3 linked regions of the Homo sapiens genome follow. The protein of the gene in region 3 purifies or fractionates together with the protein of the main gene of each other region. This does not show direct contact. Each region holds a gene or a part of one and is shown on either strand. Other genes may lie near its edges.

Region 1 (8,347 bases), on a different chromosome or scaffold from region 3:
TTGGAAAAAGCTTTCCAAGTGACTCTAATGCAACAGGGGCAGAGACTGTCACAAAAGGTACTGATATAAATAATACATGATGGAAGGGGAAGTCTGTACTTCTTCAACAAGGACAGGAGGCATTGTGTCAAGGACTACTCAAAGTGCAAAGATGATTTCACATCTTTTTTTTTTTTTTTTTTTTTTTTGAGACAGGGTCTCGCTCTGTCACCCAGGCTAGAGTACAGTGGTGCAATCTTGGTTTACTGCAACATCTACCTCCCTGGCTCACACGATTCTCCCACCTCAGTCTCCCGAATAGCTGGGATTACAGGCATGTGCCACCACACCTGGATAATTTTTGTATTTTAGCAGAGATGGGGTTTCACCACATTGGCCAGGCTGGCCTCGAACTCCTGACCTCAGATGATCTGCCCACCTCGGCCTCCCAAAGTGCTGGGATTACAGGCATGAGCCATTGTGCCCAGCCCGTTTCACATCTTTCTGGAATGTCAATTTTACTTGACAGGTAAGCAGTTTAAAATGTCATTTTTATTTTGGGTGGTGATTTCATAGATATATATATATATAACTGTCAAAACTCATCTAACATTTAAAATCTGGACATTGAATTGTATCTTTATTATATCTCAATAAATGTCATTTTAAAATTAAAATATGGATACATTCTAGAGTATAATACAAAATCTGCATTTTCTTTTTAGATACACTCTGAGACTTGAAAGAAGTCACCCTCTGAGATGGGTCCCTGATATGGTTTGGTTATGTCCCCACTCAAATCTCATCTTGAATTATAGCTCCCATAATCCCTACATATCATGAGCGGTACCTGGTGGGAGGTAACTGAATCATTGGGGAGGGTTTTTCCCATGCTGTTCTTGTGATAGCAAATAAGTCTCAAGCTGTGATGGTTTTATAAATGGGAGTTTCCCTGCACACACTCTCTTGCCTGTCGCCATGTAAGACGTGCCTTTGCTCCTCCTTCATCTTCCACCATGATTGTGACGTCTCTCCAGCCATGTGGAACTGTGAATCTATTAAACCTCTTTTTCTTTATAAATTACCCAGTTTTGAGTATTTCTTCATAGCAGTATGAAAAGGGACTAACACAGAAAATTGGTAATGCAGAGAGTGGGGCACTACTGTAAAGACAGCCGAAACTGTGGAAATAACTTTGGAACTGGGTAACTGGCAGAAGTTGGAACAGTTTGGAGGGCTCAGAAGAAGATAGGAAAATGTGGGAAAGTCTGGAACTTCCTAGAGACTTGGAGGGCTCAGAAGACAGGAAAATGTGGGAAAGTTTGGAACCTCCTAGAGACTTATTGAATGGCTTTGACCAAAATGCTGATAGTGATATGGACAATAAAATTCAGGCTGAAGTGGTTTCTGATGGAGATGAGGAACTTATTCAGAGTTGGAGTAAAGGTCACTCTTGCTATGCAAAGAGACTAGTGGCATTTTGCCCCTGTCCTAGAGATCTGTGGAACTTTGAACTTGAGAGAGATGATTTAGGGTATCTGGCAGAAGAAATTTCTAAATGGCAAAGTGTTCCAGAGGAAGCAGAGCATACAAATTTGAAAAATCTGCAGACTGACGATGCAGTAGAAAATAAAAACCCATTTTCTAGGGAGAAATTCAAGCTGGCAGCAGAAATTTGCATAGGTAATAAGAAGCTAACTATTAATCACCAAGACAATGGGGAAAATGTCTCCAGGGCATGTCAGAGACCTTCACAACAGGCCCTCCCATCACAGGCCCAGAAACCTAGGAGGAAAAATGGTTTCATGGGTCAGGTCCAGGGTCCCCCTGCTGTTTGCAGCCTAGGGACTTGGTGTCCTGCATCCCAGCCATGCCAGCCATGGCTAAAAAGGGCCAATGTACAGCTCAGGCCTGGCTTCAGACAGTGCAAGCCTGAAGCCTTGGCAGCTTCCACATGGTGTTGAGCCTGCAGGTGCACAGAAGTCAAAAATTGAGGTTTGGGAACCTCTGCCTAGATTTCAGAGGATGTATGGAAATGCCTGGATGTCCAGGCAGAAGCTTGTTGCAGGGGTAGAGCCCTCATAGAGAACCTCTGCTAGGGCAGTGTGGAAGGGAAATGTGGGGTGGGAGCCCCCATACAGAGTCCCTCCTGGGGCACTGCTGGTGGAACTGTGAGAAGAGGGCCACCGTCCTCCAGACCCCAGAATGGTAGATCTACTGACCACTTGCACCATGTGCCTAGAAAAGCTGCACACACTCAATATTAGCCTGTGAAAGCAGCTGGGAGAGGGGGTTGTAGCCTGTAAAACCACAAGGGCAGAGCTGCCCAAGGCTGTGGGAGCCCACCTCTTGCATCAGCATGATCTGGCTGTGAGATACGAAGTCAAAATGATCCAAAGATCATTTTGGAGCTTTAATATTTGACTGCCCTGCCAGATTTTGAACTTGCATGGGGGCTTTAGCCCCTTTGTCTTGACCAATTTCTCCCATTTGGAACGGGTATATTTACCTCACTCCCGTGCACCCATTGTATCTAGGAAGTAACTATCTTGCTTTTATTTATTTATTTTTAAATTTAATTTTATTATTTTTTTTGAGACGGAGTCTCGATCTGTCCCCCAGGCTGGAGTGCAGTGGCCCAATCTCAGCTCACTGCAAGCTCTGCCTCCCGGGTTCACACCATTCTCCTGCCTCAGCCTCCTGAGTAGCTGGGATTACAGGCGCCTGCCACCATGCCCGCCTAATTTTTTGTATTTTTAGTAGAGATAGGGTTTCACCGTGTTGACCAGGATGGTCTCCATCTCTTGACCTCATGATCCGCCCGCCTCGGCCTCCCAAAGTGCTGGGATTACAGGTGTGAGCCACTGCGCCCAGCCACTAGCTTGCTTTTGATTTTACAGGCTCATAGGCGGAAGGGACTTGCCTTGTCTCAGATGAAACTCTGGACTGTGGACTTTCGAGTTAATGCTGAAATGAGTTAAGACTTTGGGGGACTGTTGGGAAGGCATGATTGGTTTTGAAATGTGAGGATATGATATTTGGGAGGGGCCAGGGGCAGAACAGTTTGGCTGTGTCCTCATCCAAATCTCATCTTGAATTATAGCTCCCATAATCCCCACATGTGGTGAGAGGGACCCAGTGGGAAGTAACTGAATCATGGGGAGGGGATTTTTCCCATGCTGTTCTAATGATAGTAAGTCTCATGAGATCTGATGGTTTTATAAAGGGCAGTTCCCCTGCACACGCTCTCTTGCCTGCCACCATGTAAGACATGCCTTTGCTCCTCCTTCACCTTCTGCCATGATTGTGAGGCCTCCGTAGCCATTTGGAACTGTGAGACCATTAAACCTCTTTTTCTTTATAAATTACCCAGTTTTGGGTATTTCTTTATAGCAGTATGAAAATGGACTAACACCGTCCACATATGCAGGGAGGCAACCACTTCACTCTCCTCTGCTTGGGGTGGGGTTGAGGGGTTGAGAAAAAGAGGGGAAGACCTTTTGAAAAGACCCAGGACTACAGTTTGAAAATGTCTGGGTTTAGAAATCGTTTCACTTCCAGTGCTTCTCACTCATTTCACTACCCATGACCCACTCCCCTCTCATCTCTTTACTGTCCACTTATCACTGTTCTTTTTGCTTAAAATGACTCCAAATCCTCAAAAAATTAAAAGTTCCACTGTTTATTACAATTGGAAATTTTATGTTTATTGTCACTGAGCAGAGGGTCTAATGACTCCAAGGCAGTAGTTTCAGATATTGCACATTGCAAACGATTTTCACACAAAAATGTTTTAAAAGGCTATCGGGTGCAGGGCTGGTTGTAGGTAGGGACCCAACCTAAGAATTATGAAACGCCATAGTTCCTAATTTTGGAAAGATATTAGCGGAGAGTAATATGGATTAGTAGCAAGGGCTGGAGAAAACAGTGCTCTATACTACCTTCAAGGTGCTCTTTTCATCGCTTGTGACCCAATGGCTGAATAGTGGGTAGGAAACAGGATTCAGGATCTCAGGCACGGTCTGGATCTACTGACTCTGAGCGTCATTTTATCTCTTGCTGGGGTACACATCTGCTTCTGGATTTAAGTAACGTGCGCTACAATAATTTAAGGACTATAAAACCACAAGGTTATGAGAGCGTAAACCACAAAGCGTGTAAGTAAATGCCTAGAAAACGCAACGCGGTAGCACAGCAGCAACGCACAAACAGCCCCAGCAAACGACGCGCGCCGGGCTTCCCAGCTCCCGGCAGCCTTTGCGCAGCCCTCCCCAAGTCCAACTGGGCGCCCGGGGCGGGGTCTGGACCGCACGCCCTTACCACACCCCCTCCGCGCCGCACCACGCCCCCTCCGTACCTGCTCTTAGCGCGCCTTCCGCCCTGAATATGCGCATGCGCCATTCTCCCTTTACAGCCCCGAAAACGCTCCAGCTGGCCGACTCGGAGACAATGGCGAGAGGCCTCAGAGTTCGGCTTCTTACCTGCTTTGCATAGGCAGCAATCTCCTGCTAGTCCCGCCTCCCTCTGGCATTCTGGCGCGCGAATGGAGGAGCCGAGAAGAGAGCGCAGTTCTGATTGGAGAACGCGCGTGTTTACATTCTCACCTCTCCCGGGAAGTGGACGAATTTAGACCGCCTCTTCCTTCCCGTTGTTTAAGGCAGTTGGTTGCCCTCCTGTCCGTCAGAGGTGCAGTACCAGAGGTGGCGTGCTGCCGATTTCGCGTTTGCCTTGCTGGATGATTCCGCTTGTTTGCCGGCTGCGTGAGTGCTTAGAGCTTTTCGGTGGAAGATGCCGGACAGTAACTTCGCAGAGCGCAGCGAGGAGCAGGTGTCTGGTGCTAAAGTCATCGCTCAGGCCCTGAAAACGCAAGTACGATGGACCTTCCTGGAATGAAAGGCTCCTACGGAAGCTGGCGGGGACCGCGATGTTGTCTTGGAGACGAGTAGAAATGGGCGATGGGGGTCGGGGGGTTTTCCTTTTAGCGCCCGGGAGGGAGGGAAGGATGTGGCGATATGGTGGGGCCTTGGGAGTTTACTCCCCTGTTCTTCGTTCCTCAGGATGTGGAGTACATATTTGGCATCGTAGGCATCCCAGTGACCGAAATCGCCATTGCTGCCCAGCAGCTAGGCATCAAGTACATCGGGATGAGGAATGAGCAAGCGGTGAGTATGGACTCAGGTGGCTGAATGCGTTACTGGGAATGATCAGTAATAGCGGTAGGTATGCATTGCAAACACCCAGATAGCGCTTACCACTCTTCTGCTACTTTACATATATCATATCAATCACTGTTGAATATTAACTGTTGTTACACCAAGTTGACAGATGAGAAAAGACACAGGTTAAGTAAAACTTGCCTTTGGTGACACAGCTGGTAGTAGCAGAGCCAGGGTTTGAACCCACGTATTCTGGGTCTGAGTCCATTCTCTTACTACTATACTGTATGTCATGATTGGAATGGACAGTTTATGAGTAAAGTCTGACTTCCCTATTAGGCTACAAGCTCCATTAGAGCAGGGATATTATTTCTTCACGACACATCTGTACCCCCAGTGCTTAGTGTGGTGCCTGCATAAGAAAGGTGTTCAGAGATTACCTGTGGGATAAATGAGTGAAGGCCAAGGCTTTGTTGTATGATTGGTTCGGGGCAGGGTGGAGGATATCACAAATGGTAGTGCCTTGATGGAAACTCAGATGGCTCAGATCCTAGCCTGATGCTTTTTCCACCACATCATGCTGCCACCTTTCTTAGAGGCTTATTTGGAAGCAGGATAAGGAAGATACGACGTTTTGTCAATCCACTTTAAGTGCATCCTCTGCCAATCCACCTTGCTCTTCTCTCAGTAGTGCGGGCTTGAAAGGTCAAGAATCCACTTCTGTGATATCACATACTCTCAGTCCAGCTGAGGCTAAATATTCCTGCTTTACACTCCCACCGTTGCCTTCTAATTTAAATTCTTGCCTCCTCTTGCCCAAACAACTGCCTGGCCACCCTAAGTGGTGCCTTTTGCCATCATACATGAGTGCCTGGAGGGCAGAAGTTGTGATTCATTTGTTATATCACCACAGTGCCTGGCTTGGTTTGTGCTTTCACGTGGTGTAGATGCTTAATATTATACATTATTTATTAATTGAATGACATTCTTTATTGAATGACATTCTTTATTGAATGACATTCTTTATCTACAAGGTTTGAGATTTGTATTTTTTAATCTTAAAACTAGGAGGTTTTGAGTTTCTGTTGCTTCTACATTTTACTTGTCTTTGTTAGAACAACATTCTGTTCTTTCATCTGTGTGAAAAAATGAAGCTATTGACCTATGAATGGAACCTATACTTAACTGTTTTTGTAGAGATGACATATCTGCCACTGATTTCTTCATACAGCAAACATTTATTGACTAAGTACTGTATACTAAGGATTGTGCTACATAACCTGTAGGAGAGAGGGATGTAAAGAAGGAGTGAGGTTTAGTCTTGATCTTCACGTTGATCAGTCCTGGAAGGTGAGGGTAAGACTTACAGAAAAAGACTCATCTATTATAACTCTCACAATAGATGTAGTAGCACAGAAGGGGTGACTGGTTCTCTTTGAGGACAGAGAAGATTGCCTGTAGAGGTAATGTTAGTTCATGTGGTTCCCTCAAGGTAGGTAAAGGCATGGTGAGCTGTGAGACTGGTAGGTAGGTTGAGGGGAGGTTGTGGGAAATCTAAAAAGAGTTTGAATTTTTTTTTTTTTTTAACAGTAGGCAATGGGGGAGACTAAAGGTTTTTCTAAACAGGTGGGCGATGTAATTAGATTTGTACTTCAGAAAGATGATGCGAGGCATGGTTGTACATGCCAGTAATCCCAGCTACGAAGGGGGCTGAGGCAGGAGGATTACTCAAGTCCAGGAATTAGAGGCTGCCTGGGCAACATAGCACGACCTCTGTCTCTAAGTTTTATTTCAGCCCCTATAAGCTTAGTTGAGGGTTCTTTAGGTCCCATGTGCTGTGTTGGGTGCTGGATACAGAGATGAATGATAGTTCCTGGCTTTAAGGGGCTTACAGCCAAGCTGTGGAGACAGACACAGACAATTGTATTATAAGGTGGTAAGTGCTGTGATAGAGAGATATCCAGGGTGCTATAAAGCCCAGAGAAGGAGTACCCAGGCTCAGCTTCCCACAGGAGATGATGTCTGAGCTGTCCTGAAGGATAAGCAGGCATTAACCAGTTAGGAAAGAGGAGGCAGGCTCCTCTGGAGATGATTCCTAGATTTTGGGCTTACTTGATTGATTGTGTAGATCATATTGTCTGTGACTGAGACTGGGAATATAGAGGGAAGAGCCAGCTTGGAGGAGAAAGGTGATGTTCAATTTTGAACACATGCATTTGAGATGTTGGTGGAACATCCCAGTGCATATGTCCCTCAAGCATCCTGACTCTATGGTAGTCAAAGGAAGACTTAAATGGTACCTGAACTAAGGGTAGTGACAGAATGATTCAGAGGGAACATGAAAACAGGCTAAGGCATTCAGGACATGTTTGTGATAAAGAGAAAGATGTAGTTGGGTGTGACTTCATTGTCTTTGATTAGATCCATAGAGTAATCAAGACATACTGACCAATTGGCCAGCAAGTAGGCAGATTGTCAGCAAGTTCATTGTTCTTGAGAGCTTACTGTGTGTGGGCACTATTTTGAGTGTTTTACACATACGAACTGATTTCATCCTCACAGCAGTGCTTTGAATTATTTTCATTTTATAGATGAAGAAACAGAGATTTAGAGCAACTTGCCAAAATTACACAGTAGAAAGTGGGGAAGCTGGGATTTAAATCAAAACAGATTGGCTCGAGAGTCCACTCTCTAAGTACCATGTACACTGTTCTGCCTGTGAATGGAGGTAGTTTAGTAGAGGAACAGATCTTTTATGGTCATAAAACCAGTTATGGCCAGGCGCGGTGGCTCACGCCTGTAATCCCAGCACTTTGGGAGGCTGAGGCAGGCAGATCACCTGAGGTCAGGAGTTTGAGACCAGCCTGACCAACATGGAGAAACCCCGTTTCTAAAAATATAAAATTAGCCAGGCGTGGTGGTGCATGTTTGTAATGCCAGCTGCTCGGGAAGCTGAGGCAGGAGAATTGCTTGAACCTGGGAGGTGGAGGTTGCCGTGAGCCAATATTGCATCATTGCACTCCAGCCTGGGCAACAAGAGCGAAACTCCGAAACTCTGTCTCAAAAAAAAAAAACAAAACAAAACAAAATAAAACAAAACAAAACAGTTACCTCTCAACTTTTGACATTTCCTACCAGAGGAATATACTTTTTGTTACGTGTTGTTGTATATTTTGCATTGCCTAGCAACATTTCTTACCTAGCTATCATAA
Region 2 (8,030 bases), on a different chromosome or scaffold from region 3:
GGATTACAGGCGTGGGCCACCAAGCCTGGCCGTGAGAAGCATCTTAGTGCAGGTAATTTCCCCTGAAATTTGGATGGAATTCTGTGGAAGGAATTGCCTTCACTGGAATTAGATCCCAAGATAAGAACGTTGTAATGCTCTTCCAGAAAGGTGATGCCACCCTTCAGCACTTCCATACCCATGTGCCTGCGAGTGCAGGTAGACACACCGTGTGTACATTTGTACACGTACATCCCAACAGCACAGTATTCTTTCTAACACTGTATATCTCAGCTGGAGACTTTGGCTAATTTAATAGGTAGAAAGAGTTACCTTATTTCCTCTTCTTCTTTTTCCAGCTTTTTTTTCTGGGAACCAAAAAACAGTGTATTATGAGAGTTCAGACAAAGTCCAGAGCCAGAACAGATTCCCAAAGTCCACAAGGTCCCCGCTGAGCTCCTGGCCAGAACTAGCTGAGGTGGCCTTGGCCCATCCTGTACACTCATTCTGGGAGGCTGGCCCAGGCTCCCGGTGGCCCACCCCTCTTAAGTGCTTCTGTAGGGGTACCACTTCCTTCCAAACAGCCACGCTCCTTCCCCCACCTTAGCCACGCTCGCCTGCTTCTGGGGCACCAGCCTTTTGACTTGTTTGACAGGGCTTTGCTCCTCCAGAGATATATCTGCATCCTCATCCTCATCATCTTCCTCTTCCTCTTCCTCCTCCTCCCCTTCTTCTTCCTCCTCCTCCTCCCAGGTTAGGTCTGATGCTTCTGTAATAGCATGGGAAAGGATGCAGGGGCACAGCTTCAGAGCTACAGAATCAATGCCCACCTCCCATTCTGTGATCCGTGTTGCTCCAAGCACTGCCCTGGAGGAATCCTAGCCTGGAGTTGACAGTGGTTACCTGCCTGCCACCTGTACAGGGCGGCACCCTTTCTGGCCCTCCCAACAGTGGAGGCCAGGGTAGGGTAGGGGGTCTAGGAAAGCCCTGCAGAGGGCTGGGGTGGTAGAAAGAGGGCAGGGGAAGTGGCTCTGGCTGGGTAGGAGGGGGATTCATATTGGCAAGGGCTGGGGCCAAGGCTAAAGGTAGGCAGAGTAGGGGAGGAAGAGGAGGAGAGGGGGAAAGAATCTAAAACAAATAGCTAAAGAATTGAAACCTTATCCTAAGAGAAGTGGGACCTGCCAAGGCTTTTTAGCAGGAGAGTACCCTGATGAATGAGGCATAATCATACAGAAAAGAGGGCCAGTTGAAGGGACCTTGAAGGAGTCAGCATCATGCCGCGTTGCTATGGTCTGCGTTGCTATGGTCTGCGTTGCTATGGTCTGCATCACTGCAGCAGCCACATCCTGAACAGTGGTTCCCTAGTGCTGGGTATTACGCTGAGTGCTTTTCCTGAATATCCCATTTATTCTTCACAACTGCTCTTTGAAGTTTACAAGTGAGGGGCTGCAGCCTACAGAGGTCATGGCAGGTAAAGAAGAAGAACAGGGACCAGCGCCCTTGCCTTCCAGTCCAGGCTGCTGGCTGTCATGTTGCCTTTGGGGATTTTCTTCCAACATTCAAGAATCCCTCCAGTGTTTGAGTAGCTAGTATGTCCCGAGCCCCTGCCTAGCACGGTACTCACGGACCTTCCTGATCGCAGGCTCTGACTTACCATAACGTTCCTGGCCACTGAGGAACACGGGTCCTGAGCCAGCCCGGAGCTGGAAAGTAACTGGGGGAGAAAGCTGCACTCCTACCATGGAGACCTGCAGGGGGAGGAAGCAGAGAAGACAGGGCCACTTAGGCCTGGCACCTCTCGGGGACTAGCCTCAGGCAGAAATACTGAGTTGATTTCCCTCCCCAAACCCTACACACTACTCAGCCCCTGCTGAGGTGGATTCTGTCCAAGAATTTGAACCTGGTAATCCCATTCTTGCTAAGCTCACAGATGGGCTTCCAAGCTGAAGGGCAGCCGTCAGATAGAGGAATCTGATTAGTATGGGCTAAATTATGGCCATTCCCCCCATCCTCCAAATTCCTATGTTGAAGCCCTATCCTCCAGTGTGATAGTATTTAGAAATGCAGGCCTTGGGAGGTCATTAGGTTTGGGGTCATGAGGGCAGGACCCTCATGATAGAACTAGTACCTTTACAAAAAGAGACACTAGAGAACTCACTCTCTTTCTCTCCACTCTCCTGCCCCACACGTGAACACATAGCAAGAAGGCTGCCGTCTGCAACTCAGGGAGAGGACCCTTACCAGAACCCAACCATGCCGGCCCCCTGATCTCAGACCTCAAAGCCTCCAGAAGTGTGAGAAAACGTCTGTTGCTAAAGCCCTCCAGTCTGTGGTATTTTGTTATAGCAACTTGGGCAGACTGAGACACCGATCAAACGAGAAAGCAGATGCATGATTTTATGTACAGTGCTGCTTGCTTTCTTCACATCAGACAGGTGATGTGCCAACTCGTAACCAGGTTTGTGGGAGGCACACCTTACACACGAGCGTGAAACCCCAATCATCACACTTATAAATGACAAGAGCCTCTACAGTACTACTTTTGTCTTATGTATAATGTATGGATATACATAAGAATAAAGGTTTAAAATATATTAAAGTGCTAACCATAATTGTCAGTCGATAGTAAGGTATTTATTGTATTTATACTTTTCCAAACTTCCCAAATTTTCTCGAATGACAATGATAGCTTATTGTTTTGAGCTTCTGCCACGTGTCAGGCACCCTGCTAAGCATTTTATCTGCTTTATCTCATTAAATCCTCACAAGAAACCCATGATGTAAGTACTGATACTTTACAGAGGAGGAAACTGAGACTTAGAGTGAATAACTTACAGCTTCTAAACTCTAAGTTCAAACAGGAGGTAATAAGTGAAAACAAACTCTGCAGCCAGAGACACTTAGAAATGCCAGAGAGGATGTAATTCAGTGTTTCTACTGCATGGCTGAACAGTAAGACAGAAGAATCCTCGTACATAAAAAATGAAGAGAGGATGCCTTCTGATTAGTGATGAATGAAAAAAAGAAAAAAGAAATGAAGACAGGCAGGTGCAGGAGCTGGTGTGCTGCAACCGAGGGGAAATGGACCTGAAAACAGCCAGGACTTTTTGCTTCAAAACTCACACACAGGCCGAGCACGCACGGTGGCTCATGCCTGTAATCCAAGCACTTTGGGAGGCCAAGGCAGGCGGATAACTTGAGGTCAGGAGTTTGAGACCAGCCTGGGCAACATGGTGAAACCCTGTTTCTACTAAAAATACAAAAATTAGCCAGGTGTGATGGTGCACACCTGTAATCCCAGCTACTCAGGGGGCTGAGGCAGGAGAACTGCTTGAACCCAGGAAGCGGAGGCTGCAGTGAGCCGAGATTGCGCCACTGCGTGCCAGCCTGGGCGACAGAACAAGACTGTCTTTAAAAAACACAACAGAACAACAACAAAATCTTCACAGTCAGGAGACAAGGCCTTGGGCTCAGGCAAGGAGGAGAGTTGTAGCTGAGACCACCATGGGGAGGGTAGGACCCTCAAGGGCTATACCCTTAGTGAGAGGCCCAAGGTAAGTGTTGAGGATTAGAGACTCAAAAGCCCAAACCAGCCCTCTTCTCCTCAAAAATGAAAAACAAAAATCAAAACCCTAGCCACCATTAAAGGAAGCTAACAACAAAGCATGAATGGAAATAAAAGAAGTCTCCAGTGAGAGCCCATACCCCATAGCTGTACCTCTCACTTATGGGGTCTGAATTTACTCAGTGAGTACTGCCAAGCCAAGAAATGTACAGAAAATCCCAAGCTTATGATATTCCTGAGGTAAATGGCAGAAGCAAACACGAAACCACTCTGTTGGAACACTCCCCAAACTCAGGCCACATCGAATTCTTTTGGAAAAAAACAAAATAAACTAAAGATGAGCTCACCGTATAAAATTACAAAACATACAAGAAACAATCCAGCTAGAGTCAACAGAAAGAAATCAAGTGACTGCAGACTAGCCCGACCAAGAACTTAGAACACTGATCTAAAAAAATATCAGATAAAGCTGGGTGTGTTGGTGCACGCCTGTAGCCCAGGCTACTCGGGGGGGCTGAGGCCGGAAGATCGCTTGAACTCAGGAGTTCAAGGCTGCAGTGAGCTATGATTGCAACAATGCACTCCAGACTGGGCGACAGAGCAAGATCTTGTCTCTAAAATATGTATATACAGAAATATGTACATATATATATATATGTATATGTTTAAAACCAAGTAAATATAAAAGTAGGAATCATAATCATAAGAACAAGACATTATGAAAAGAAAAAGAACCAAATGCAGCTTTCTAGATATAAAACACCCAAAGCTGAGGATGGGCATGGTGGCTCACACCTATAATCCCAGCACTTTGAGAGGCTGAGGTGGGAGGAGTGCTTGAAGTCAGAAATTAGAAACCAGCCTGGATAACATAGTGAGACTCCAGCTCTACAAAAAAATAATAAACATTAGCTGGGCATGGTGGCTCATGCCTGTAGTCCCAGCTACTTAGGAGGCTGAGTGGGAGGATCACTTGAGCCCAGGAGTTTGAGGCTGCAGTGAGCCATGATCAGGCCACTGCACTCCAACCTAGGCAACAGAGCAAGACCTTGTCTTTAAAACAAAAATAAAAGAAAACCTGATCAAATGATTAAAAAGCAGAAAAAACCAGCAGAAGCAGAATTAGTATGATCAATAATGCTGTGAAGGAATTACCCAGTATAAGGCAGAGAGGGAGAGATTTAAAGAAACATTGGGGGAGCTAACACGGGGGACAGAGTGAGAAGGCCCAACATATATCTAATTGGAAAAGGGACTAGGGAGACTGGAAGACAGTCAATATTCAAAGGAAAAACAACCAATAATTTTCCAGAATTGATCAAAGACATAGATCCTCATGTCTGAAAACCTAAGTCCTGAACAGACAAAAAAAATAAATCTACACCTGAACACATCATGGTAAAACTATAGAAAATAAAAACAAAAGACATTATCTTAAAATAAGCCAGAGAGGAAAGACATCTCCAAAAAGGGAATAATCAGACAGATTGAGGACTTCAACAGCAACATTGGGAACCAGAATAGAACAGCTTCAAAGCTGAAGGAAACTCTCTATCTAGAATTATATACACAGCCAAACCATCATGAAGGAATGAGGGCAAAATCATGATATTTCCAGACAAAGCCTGAATAAGTTTACTATTCTCAGGCTTACTAAAGTATGTTGCTAAAAAGGATAAGAAATTAGATCAAGAAGGAAGAAGTGGGTGCTAGAAGCAGTGGTAACCAAACTAATTGGTAAACAAAGTAAACCTACATAAGAATTAACTGGAAAATACAATAGTACTAGTAATGAGTAGTGTTGAGTAGGCTGACAAGTTGGAGCTAGAACACTTGATAATAATATTGAAGTTAAAAAGATGAGAATCAGGCCAGGTGCGGTAGCTCACACCTATAATTCCAGCACTTTGGGAGGCCAAGGCAGGAGGATCACCTGAGCTCAGGAGTTCAAGACCAGCCTGGCCAACGTGGTGAATCCCTGTCTCTACTAAAAATACAAAAATTAGCTGGGCATGATGGTGCATACCTGTAATCCCAGCTACTTGGGAGGCTGAGGCAGGAGAATCACTTGAATCACCTGGGAAGCAGAGGTTGCAGTGAGTCAAGATTGCACCACTGCACTCTAGCCTGGGAAACAAAGTGAGACTCCATTTCGAAAATAAAAAAATAAAAAAAGGAGAATCAGAAAAGCTCCTTGGATTGTCTGGGAGGACATAAAACATTAATTCTAAACTTTGAGTAATGTATGATTGTTAAAAAAATTAAAGATAAACAGTAAAAAAATTAGAATGAGATTCTATAACTTCCAAACCAGTAGAGAAGGGGAAAAGGAACTTTAATTAATCTAATAAAATATAGGAAAAGGAGAAGAAAATAAAAAAGCAAGGAAAGTAGGGGTACAAAGTACATGCCACAAATCCAATTACATCAGCAATCACAATGAATACAGACTATACTGGCCAGATAGAACAAAATCTAGCTACATACTGTGTAAAAGATACATACCTGGAACATAAGACATAAAACACACCTGAAACAGAGAGGTTGCTGAGGCCAGAACACAAAGGCTTCGAAGCAGGCCATAATACACTCTCGGCTCTTATTCCAAATGAGAGAGAGCCATGACCTAACTATTCTAGCAGAGAAGCCACATGATCTAACCTGTGTTTAAAAGGATCTTTTTGGCTGGGCATAGTGGCTCACGCCTATAATCTCAGCACTTTGGGAGGCTGAGGCAGGTGGATCACTTGAAGTCAGAAGTTCAAGACCAGCCTGGCCAACATGGTGAAACCCCGTCTCTACTAAAAATTACAAAAAAAAAAAAAAATCAGCTGGGCATGGTGGGGAGCGCCTGTTGTCCCGGCTACTAAGGAGGTGGAGGTTGCAGTGAGCCGAGATTAAGCCACTGCATTCCAGCCCTGGTATCAAAGCAAGATTCTGTCTCAAAAAAAAAAAAAAAAAAAAAAAAAAATCTTTTTGGCAGCTGTGTGGAGCACAGACCAGGAAACTTTCTGTTAAGAGCCAGAAGGTAATATTTTAGGTTTGCAAACCATATGGTCTCCATGGAGACTACTCAAATCTGCTGTTAGGGAGGAAAAGCAGCCATGGACAGGGTACAAACGAATGAGTGTGGCTGTGTTCCCAGTAAAACTACTTACAAAACCAGGCAGCAGCCTAGATTCAAGCCCTCTAGTTTGCCTACCCTGGAATAGACTACAGGGGACCATGTGATGGTAGGTAGACCAGGTGGAAGGCTGTGCAATTAAAATGGAGCCACAGGCAACTGTCACCTGTACCAGGGGTAGCAGGGAAGATGATGAGATGTGGTCCATTGGGGTATAAGATGGGGGCAGAGACAACAGGACTGCTGGTAGATCAGATATGGGTGTGGGAAAAAAGAGGATTTGGCTGGGTGTGGTGGCTCATGCCTGTAAATCCAGCACTTTGGGAGGCCAAGGCGGGTATATCACCTGAGGTCAGGAGTTCGAGACCAGCCTGACCAACATGGCAAAAACCCATCTCTACTAAAATTACAAAAATTAGCCTGGCGTAGTGGAACATGCCTGTAATCCCAGCTACTTGGGAGGCTGAGATGGGAGAATCACTCGAACATGGGATGCGGAGGTTGCAGTGAGCCGAGAGCGCACCATTGCACTCCAGCCTGGGTGATAAGAGTGAAACTCCATCTCAGGGGAAAAAAAAAAAAAAAGAGCTTTGTCTTGGCTAACTGGAAAAACAGCTGTTTTCTGAGAGAAAATCAGGTTGAAGGGGAGGCGGGTGGATTAGAGATAAAAATTGAATATGTGGATTTAGACATGTTAAATTTGGGATATTTATTAGATATCTATCAAAGCCATTTAGTTGGATATAGGACTTGGAGCTCAAGAGAGGTTGAGTTTACAGAAATAAGTTCCTGAGTCTTCATTTGTTTAGATGGTCTTGAAAACCACAGGAAAGGATGAGATCGCCTGCAAAGTATGTGTAAATAGAACAGGAAAGTCTGAGGGCAGTTTGACAGAGGGGTCTCCCAAACCTCCAAGGACAGCTGATCCTAGTCTTCCATTCACTGTTCCAGGGAATAGGAGAGAACCCTCCACCCTCAGTGCATGAGGCTAGCATGTCCTGAACACCTAAATACTATCACTTATAGGCCAACCTCACATGTATACAGGTAAAAAAAAGGGCTCAATATATGAGTAAAACAAATCTAGAATTTGTAACATGACCAGTAGTATTTATCCCAGGATGGCAAAGGAACTCAGATATTATTATCTTCATATAATTTACCACGTGGACTAAAGAACCTAGAATCATATGAATAGAAAAGCATTTGGTAAAATTTAACCCCCTCTAGTGATTTCAAAGCAAAGCAATTTTTTAAAAGCAGAGGGTTTTAGATGGGGACTTCCTTAACCTGACAAAATGTACTTACCAAATGCTTCTTTTTTAAAAAACAAGAAGGAAATAAGGATGTCAGACCTGATCT
Region 3 (8,122 bases):
TGATCTGACACTTCCAACATCAGACCCCACCTCCAACACTGGGGATTACATTTCAACATGAGATTTGGAGAGGACAAACATGCAAACTATATCAACTACTCAGCCAAAAAAAAAAAAAAAAAAAAAAACTACTAAACTATGCAACAACATGGATGAATCTCAATCTCAAAAAAAAAGAACAAACTACTAAAATATGCAACAACATGGATGAATCTCAATCTCTCTCTCTCGCTATATATATATATATATATTCATTCAAATATGTGGGTGTGTATATATATGTATATACACATATATACATATATACACACACACATGCCTATTTGAATGAAAGAAGTCAGACAAAAAGGAATATATATTGTGTGATTCCATTTATATGAACACCAAGAATAGGCAATATTAACCTCTAGTCATATAAATTAGAAAGTAGTAGTCTCTCTGTGTGTGGGCTAGGGGAGGATGGAGAGGCATGAGGGTAGTTTTGGTGAACTGACAAGCTACAGACAGATACAAATAAACACTTTGGACTGACATAAATGTTCTAAATTTTGTTTTAGGTATTATTTTCATGAGTGCATATAATTATATAATTGGCAAAAGTCATACTCTGAACATTTAATACATATGTACTTTATTGAATATAAATTATACAACCATTTAAAAGTGGCCTATAATCCTCAGGAATTAAGTAGTCACTGAAGGCATACCTTTGTTGGGAATGGCAGGAATGAAGAATACAAAGATTGTGGGGTGATTTTTCTATTTATGACTGTACTAGGATGCTTAAAGAAAAATGTGATAAGCTCAGAGGCCCAGAGAACTTCTATGATTACCTTAAAACTTTATTAATTGCTGGGATGACACATCCAAATCAAGTATTAATGCTGTGAAGAGCTAAATTACAAGGTAAGTTGAATAAACAGACTCCTCAGGTCTCTTATGTAAGAAATTAAGGCATTGATTGGGAAGGAGTTGGATCTTTAGAGTTGTGATAGAGAGGTTGGGTGAATTCGGATAGCTCTATTATCTTAATACGCAGACACTACAGAGCTTTTTGCTTTCTGAAGAACTCCTCCCTTCCTATCTATAGGGCTGGTCTTGTACTCCTTGAAAATTCTGAAGTAACTTAATCTGAGGAATTTACCTTGTGAATCAATTGAGAAGAACTGATTGTTCTCAGAACTCAACTGTTATCAGTTCTTTATACCTCTAGACTACATCACCTAGTAGAAATATAATGTGAGCCACATACGTAATTTAAAATCTTCTACTAGCTACTCTTAAAATAGTGAAAAAGAAATAGTTGTGGTTAAATTTTGGTAATATATTTTATTTAACTCAACATAAACAAAATATCATTTCTGGTGGCATTGGTGGTATAGTGGTGAGTATAGCTGCCTTCCAAAATATCATTTCGACATAATCAGTATGAAAATCAAGATATTTTATGTTCTTTTTCATATGCAAAATGTGTGTATTTTGCATTTACAACATGTCTCAATTCAGAATCATCACATTTCAAATGTTTGAAATAGCTATAGGTGGCTGGTGGCCTTTGTATTCTCCATATTGGACCGGGGTTTCTTAATGTCAGCACTGTTGACATTTTGTTGTGGAGGATGTCCCGTGCATTGCAGATGTTTAACAGCATCTCTAGCCTCTACTCACTAGATGCCAGTAGGACACTTGCCCTTCCTCTTTGGCTGTGGCAAAAAAAATGTCAAGAACCACTGGTCTAGATCTAAAGTTAGATCCCAACATGTTCCAGGGTATAATAAAAGATCTGACCTGGGAGAAGGGTTTCATACCAAAAAAGTGCAAGATTTTGCTTATTTATATTGGCAGAAGACTATAGAAAATGATAATGAATTCCAAGTGTGGCAGACCAGGGATGAAGGAATATTTTTGATGAGACCAAGATATTAATATGAATACATTTACCAGAGACCATAATTCACTGTTCTTGCTTTGAACATCTAGGAGTGGCTGTCAAGGTTTGCTCAGTTGGTTGATTGAAACTAAATAAAGTTGAGATGTTAGAAATCTCTTGATTTTAGAGGATTGAATTAAAAGACTTAGGGAAAGGGGTAACGAAGAGAGGTTGATTAATGAGTGCAGACATACAGTTAGATAGAAGAAATAAGACCCAGTGTTTGACAGATAAGTAGGGTGACTATAGTTAACTATAATCTATTGTATATTTCAAAATAACTAGAAGAGAACAATTTGAATGTTCATAGCATAAAGATAAATATTTAAGGTGATGGATATCCTGACTATCTTGATTTGATCTTTACACATTACACATTCATATAAATGTATCCAATTATCACATGTACCCTGAAAATATGTACATCTAGTATGTATCAATTTTTAAAGAAGACTTAGGGAATAGTACTGTATGAATGGATTTATCATATGTTACCCAGTCATCTCCTTTCAAAGGTGTTCTGAGAGGGCCAAAGGACCTTCTTTTTACTAAAGCATTGAGAAAATATAGGGAATGCCAGAATCCTTTAAAAGCTCTGTAGCTGCTATTCTATAAGCCTGGGGATAAAGATGCTGCCATTGCATGAAATCCCTAATTCCCTAATGGAAATAGTAAGATCCCAAAGTGATAGAGGCCAAGTGATACCACTGAGCCATCAGAGATGAGATATCTGTTGATACCATGATACCAGCAGGGTGTATCATATTGTTTGACTAAGGGGGATCTTTAGGAGTTGATAATTAATCACTGCCCCTATAATTGAAATGGATAGTCTGCTAAGATTCTACTTAATTTGTACAGCAAAAAATTTACCAGAACTAATGAAGAGACCTGAATGTCATAACCTTAAAGGAGATTTACAGCATCTTGACATTGGCTTTTTGACTCATGGCTATTATAATAGGAAGACAAAGTGGAAGCCTTTGGAACTGCCCTTATCTACTAAAAGATTAAACCAAAGGCAATACCATAGTCCTAGGGGAATTCCAGTGATTAGTGGCACTATTAAAGAGTGCAAAGATGTAAAGGTGGTGATTCTCCATCACACTTTCATTTAACCTTCTGTTTGTCCTCTGCAAACAGGTTATCTAAAATGTTGCTTTTTAATTTTGAAGTATTATTTGTATTCAAGTATCTTTATTCTATTTCATTGCCTGCTATTTTTACATTCTAGTCCCCATTTGTTGCCATGAAGATAGAAATCACAATTTCTACCCAACACTGTAGTGTTGCATCCTGCACACAAACGTACTTTAGTGAGCTCATATGTTTATGTTTATGTATCATCTATGGCTTTTCTTGGTAAGACAATGGCAGAGTTAAATAGTATCACAGAGACCATATGACCTGCAAAACCTATTAATAAAATATTATCTGGCTGTATGAGCACATTTTCATACTGCTATAAAGAATTGCCTGAGACTGGGTAATTTATAAAGGAAAGGGGTTTAATTGACTCACAGTTCAGCGTCGCTGGGGAGGCCTCAGGAAACTTACAATCATGACGGAAGGTGAAGGGGAAGCAGGACACCTTCTTCGTTAAGGAGAAGTGCCCAGTGGAGGGGAAAGAGCCCCTTACAAAACCATCAGATAGCTTGAGAACTCACTAGCATGGGGGTAAACGGCCCCCATGATTCCATTACCTTCATCTGGTCTCTCTCTTGACACGTGGGGATTATGGAACTGCCCCCATGATTCAATTACCTTCACCTGGTTTCTCTCTTGACACGTGGGGATTATGGGGATTACAATTCAAGATGGGATGTGGTCGGGGACTCAGAGCCTAACCATATCACTGGCCCTTTACTAAAAAATTTACTAATTCTGTCTCCCGCTTTAAATTATGAAAGGGACAATTACAGTACTGGTGGAAAAACATTGCTGGAGTGCTTTAGTGAAACCAATTATTTAGGTAGCAGCATGCCACGGTTATGGCTTAGTTGACAGTTACTCTACTTGTGAACTTCATAGGTTGGTGTACGATTCTTAACATGAATATTAAGTAGAGGCATTGAATGAAGATATTTTTCCAATTAAAATCTTGCTTTGCTTCTTCAGGACTTTATAAACCAGACCAGCTGGCTGTGGCACAGATACGAAAGACTTTGAGACCCTGAAGGCACCTTGCAGAACATCCTCAGGCTTCCTCATTTAACAGGAAAAAACCTGAGGCCCAGGGAGGCATCTCAGCTAAAAATACTACTATACATTTAAAAGGAGGTTTCTTCCGGTCGCAGTTGCCTTCACGTTTTCAAATCTTCTCTTTAAAAAGCAAAAGCAGGGCACAACCAGGCCAAGCGCCAGAAAACTCGGAATTGGCTTTATTTCCTTTTTTTCTAGTTGGGCTCGGTTATGATTTTCGGTAACGTACACAAATGCTGTCCTTGTCCATAAACAAACGCTTAAAAAAAAATGTTTACCCGAGAAACAAGGATAGACACGAAGCTGCCCTCCCTGCCCCGTTCCTCACCCTCTCCAATAGCTATAGGCGCTGCCCGCCGTCCCTAACCCGGACCAATCGGCAGCCTGCTGCGGGCCTGACGGGAGGGGTGGGGCCGCCGTTGCCAGAGAAGCCACTAGCCGGTTACTAGCTGCGCTTTTGTTCCACTTGAGCGGGCACTCTTCTGCGGCAAGCAGGTCTAGGAATTCGCCTGGTTCCCACCTCGCGTCCCTTGCCTTCCTTCCTAGTCTACCCACTGTAGTGCCCCCTGCGTCCCGCTCCCTCCTAGCCGACTCAGAGCACAAGAAGGATTGCCACGGTTTCCATTGCAGCAGCCGTGGCGCCTCTGACCCTTTTTTTATATCGCGGCGACGGCGGGCTGTCGTCACGACGACGTGCGGACGCAGCGGCGGGGGCGTAAGTACGCCTTTTGGGTTGGGGGCGACTTTGTGGGGAGCCTAGCTGCTGCTGGGCGTTTACCGCGGGAGCCCTTAGCGGTCTGGAGGTGAGGGCAGTGGTGGGTCCCGGAAGTAAAAGGCCCTCGCGCCCACCCAGCCCCCTCCGCGCAAACCCTCCACCTCCCTCAGGCTGACTACCTGGCCTGGGAAAAGGGCGGCGAGACTCACTCTTAGGAAGGGTGTGGTCCCCGGGACATCAGGGCAAATGTTAGCGTGAGGTGGGCTTGTGCAGAACGAAGTCCTGACCGGGCCGTTCCTGGATATGGTTGCATTTCTTTCAGAAATAGTGACCTCTTAATCATTGGGCTGGTTTTTAATCGCCCATCATGTGATATATCAGATTGTAGGAAGCCCTGGGGGCTTCGTAAGTGAGGTATATTACAGGAATCCTCAGGAAATAATTCCTTCTCCAGGATTCCTCTAGGTTCCAGCCCCTATAGGCGACCCCTGTAGTGCGGGATTGACCTAGGGTCGTGGAGAGTGCTAAAGGCCGACTTGTGTTCAGTCCCAGCTCTGCCACTGAACCCGCTGTGTGGCCTTGTCTAGGTCACTGAACCTTCCTGGATTCCTTACTGATAACTGTAACAGTAATCATCACTTTGGGGTGGTTGTAATACGAGATTAAGTAAACGCAGGGCCATTAAGGTGGCACCGAATGTAGGTGGTTAGTGAGTGGTGGTGCTTGTTGTTTACTGAGAATAACCATACTGGGGCTGCTGTTGGGGATAAAATCTATTTCGAAGACAGTTTCCTCATCACGCAACGCATAGTACGGTTTCAAGTGTTTTTGAATGAATGAGGTTCTTGGAGTTTTAAGTGCAACTGAGTTAAGGTTAAAGAAACAAACCGGGCCGGGCGCGGTGGCTCACGCCTGTAATCCCAGCACTTTGGGAGGCCGAGGCGGGCGGATCACGAGGTTAGGAGATCGAGACCATCCTGGCCAACACGGTGAAACCCCGTCTCTACTAAAACAAATACAAAAAGTTATCCGGGCGTGGTGGCGGGCGCCCGTAGTCCCAGCTACTCGGGAGGCTGAGGCAGGAGAATGGCGTGAACCCAGGAGGCGGAGCTTGCCGTGAGCCGAGATCGCGCCACTGCACTCCAGCCTGGGCGACAGCGCGAGACTCTGTCTCAAAAAAAAAAAAAAAAAAGGAAAAAGAAACAAACTGCAGAAAACCTGTCTGCTTTTGAAATTAGTTTGATATTCTGCTTATAGTAAGAATGTCATGATCATGTTTATGATTTGCTTTTTGCTTCTCTTTTTCATCTTCTTATTTCACAATGGATGTGTATTTATAGTGTAGTTTTTCTATCCCAAAAGTTCCTTGTGACAAACTTTAGAACAATGGAATTTAGTGATCTGGTCGCGGTCTGCTCTCTCTCTTTAGAATTGTAGTCTGTGCTTTTAGCTAGCTCATTCATCACTCATTTCCTTGTCCAGAACAGTTTTCATCTTTTGAATCTAAATTGAACTTATGAGTATTAAAACCTGACTGAATAAAGGCAAGTTTGTGTGTTACTTTTTGCTTTGTAGATTTTTATATTTATGTTTTAGTATCTCATGGCTTTTTTTTTTTTTTGAGATGGAGTCTCGCTCTGCCGCAGTGGAGTGCAGTGGCGCGATCTCGGCTCACTGCAACGTCCGCCTCCCGGGTTCAAGTGATTCTCCTGCCTCAGCCTCTCGAGTAGCTGGGACTACAGGTGCCCACCACCACGCCTAGCTAATTTTTGTATTTTTAGTAGAGATGCGGTTTCACCATCTCATGGCTTTTAATTCAAAACTGAGTTCCACCAATTCCTTACTTGTAATCTTGGACAAGCTATTTAACCCTTCTAAGATTTAATTTACTTATTTATAGCTTTTTAATAACAACCTTGTGAAGCTTTTGTGAGATGATGTTTATAAGGTCAGTCAGTGCTCTGCTCAGTAAATGGCAACAGCTGTCGTGTTGAAGGAAAGGAATATGCTTTATGTTTGTCTGGTACAGGATGGTGACTTTATTTGGGATTAGACAATATTCTGAACATCTTTGGCCAGGTCTTTTTCCGGGTAATTGGGCTCTATATGGACACTCAAAAGTGTCCGAGTTTAAACAGTAAATAATTTAGTCACCCTAACTTATATTTGAGAACCTAATCTATGCTCCCCACTGTGTTAGGTAATTTTTTAGGGCAGAGAGTGATGCGTATTATTTGTCCTCACAGTTAATAGCAAGTTTAAAAGAGAACTAAAATATGAGCATTTATGGAGCAGTTAAATTCTAAACTATATGATTCTGAAAATACTTTTGTTTAGAGTTCTTGATGGGCTGGAGAAATCAGGGCAACACTTTGAGAAGGAAATGGAATGTTGGCTTTGAAGTACATGCCGTGTTTACAGAACAGTCACTCTTGCTGTCAACTCTTCTTCCTATATTATCCAGTCTGCAGCCCATCTTTTAAATATACATCCTTCTTTTTTCATTGGAGAGAGGGATTACTAATTTGTTATCTAATCTAATCTCTCTGTATCAGAAAACGTTTTTTCCATTTTGGTAGCTTTTACGCATAAGATTTATTTTCCAGCTTTTTGCCTGTTTCCAAGATTCCTATCCTTTTTTTTTTTTTCATACAATTACCTCTCTAGTAAACGTTTGACTAGTGTCCAGAATAGTAGGGGGAAAAAAAGAGGATTCCTGTATCTACTTTGTGTTCCTTGCTGAATATGCCATGGTGACTTTTTTCAGTAGAAGCTGTGTTTGAAGCCAGTGGAAGTTAGTTTTCTAAGAATTTGTGTTTGGCAAAACAAAATGTGCAGGTTTCATATGCTATTCTCTTCAGAGATATTGTTTTAAAATACATATTCATCTGAAGTTAGTTAATTTACTTAGTCTGATCTAGGTGTTAAGGAAGGTCATGGACCATGATTTTCCTTTTTCTCTGACCATGGCTAGCATCATGGTCCCTGAGCAGTTATCCCCAAATGCTTGCTGTTGGCCACAGTGGAACATAGTTTAGTGAATGTAGCTGGATCAGCATAGCCTACAAGCACTCCTGGAAAAAGCTTTAAGTACATGTCCTCTTGGCAGTAGACTGGCAAAATTGTCTCTGTATAGGAAATTTAAATCTTTAAACATTTTAAAATATTTTAAAATTGCTCATCTTTAAGGATTTTTAAATGGTTTTTTAAAATTTTTTATTTCCATAGGTTTTTGGGGAACAGGTGGTATTTGGTTACATGAGTGAGTTCTTGAG

What was found.
Region 1: the proteins of ODF2L (region 3) and HACL1 purify together in Homo sapiens (affinity purification with mass spectrometry; 2 studies listed by BioGRID and IntAct, with this or other methods). This does not show direct contact.
Region 2: the proteins of ODF2L (region 3) and NPM2 purify together in Homo sapiens (affinity purification with mass spectrometry; 2 studies listed by BioGRID and IntAct, with this or other methods). This does not show direct contact.

What each region holds. Positions count from the first base shown.
Region 1 is NC_000003.12:15,597,884-15,606,230, reverse strand, and holds the start of HACL1 (2-hydroxyacyl-CoA lyase 1), read left to right. Parts: upstream 1-4,661; 5' UTR 4,662-4,767; coding exon 4,768-4,848; exon of another isoform or gene 4,849-4,870; intron 4,871-5,036; coding exon 5,037-5,141; intron 5,142-8,347. UniProt on the Homo sapiens protein: Peroxisomal 2-OH acyl-CoA lyase involved in the cleavage (C1 removal) reaction in the fatty acid alpha-oxydation in a thiamine pyrophosphate (TPP)-dependent manner.
Region 2 is NC_000008.11:22,026,827-22,034,856, reverse strand, and holds part of NPM2 (nucleoplasmin-2), read right to left. Parts: intron 2,508-8,030; exon of another isoform or gene 2,405-2,507; intron 1,728-2,404; coding exon 1,634-1,727; intron 749-1,633; coding exon 582-748; intron 348-581; coding exon 313-347; coding exon of another isoform or gene 309-312; exon of another isoform or gene 1-308. UniProt on the Homo sapiens protein: Core histones chaperone involved in chromatin reprogramming, specially during fertilization and early embryonic development. Probably involved in sperm DNA decondensation during fertilization.
Region 3 is NC_000001.11:86,392,758-86,400,879, reverse strand, and holds the start of ODF2L (protein BCAP), read left to right. Parts: upstream 1-4,556; 5' UTR 4,557-4,847; exon of another isoform or gene 4,848-4,935; intron 4,936-8,122. UniProt on the Homo sapiens protein: Acts as a suppressor of ciliogenesis, specifically, the initiation of ciliogenesis.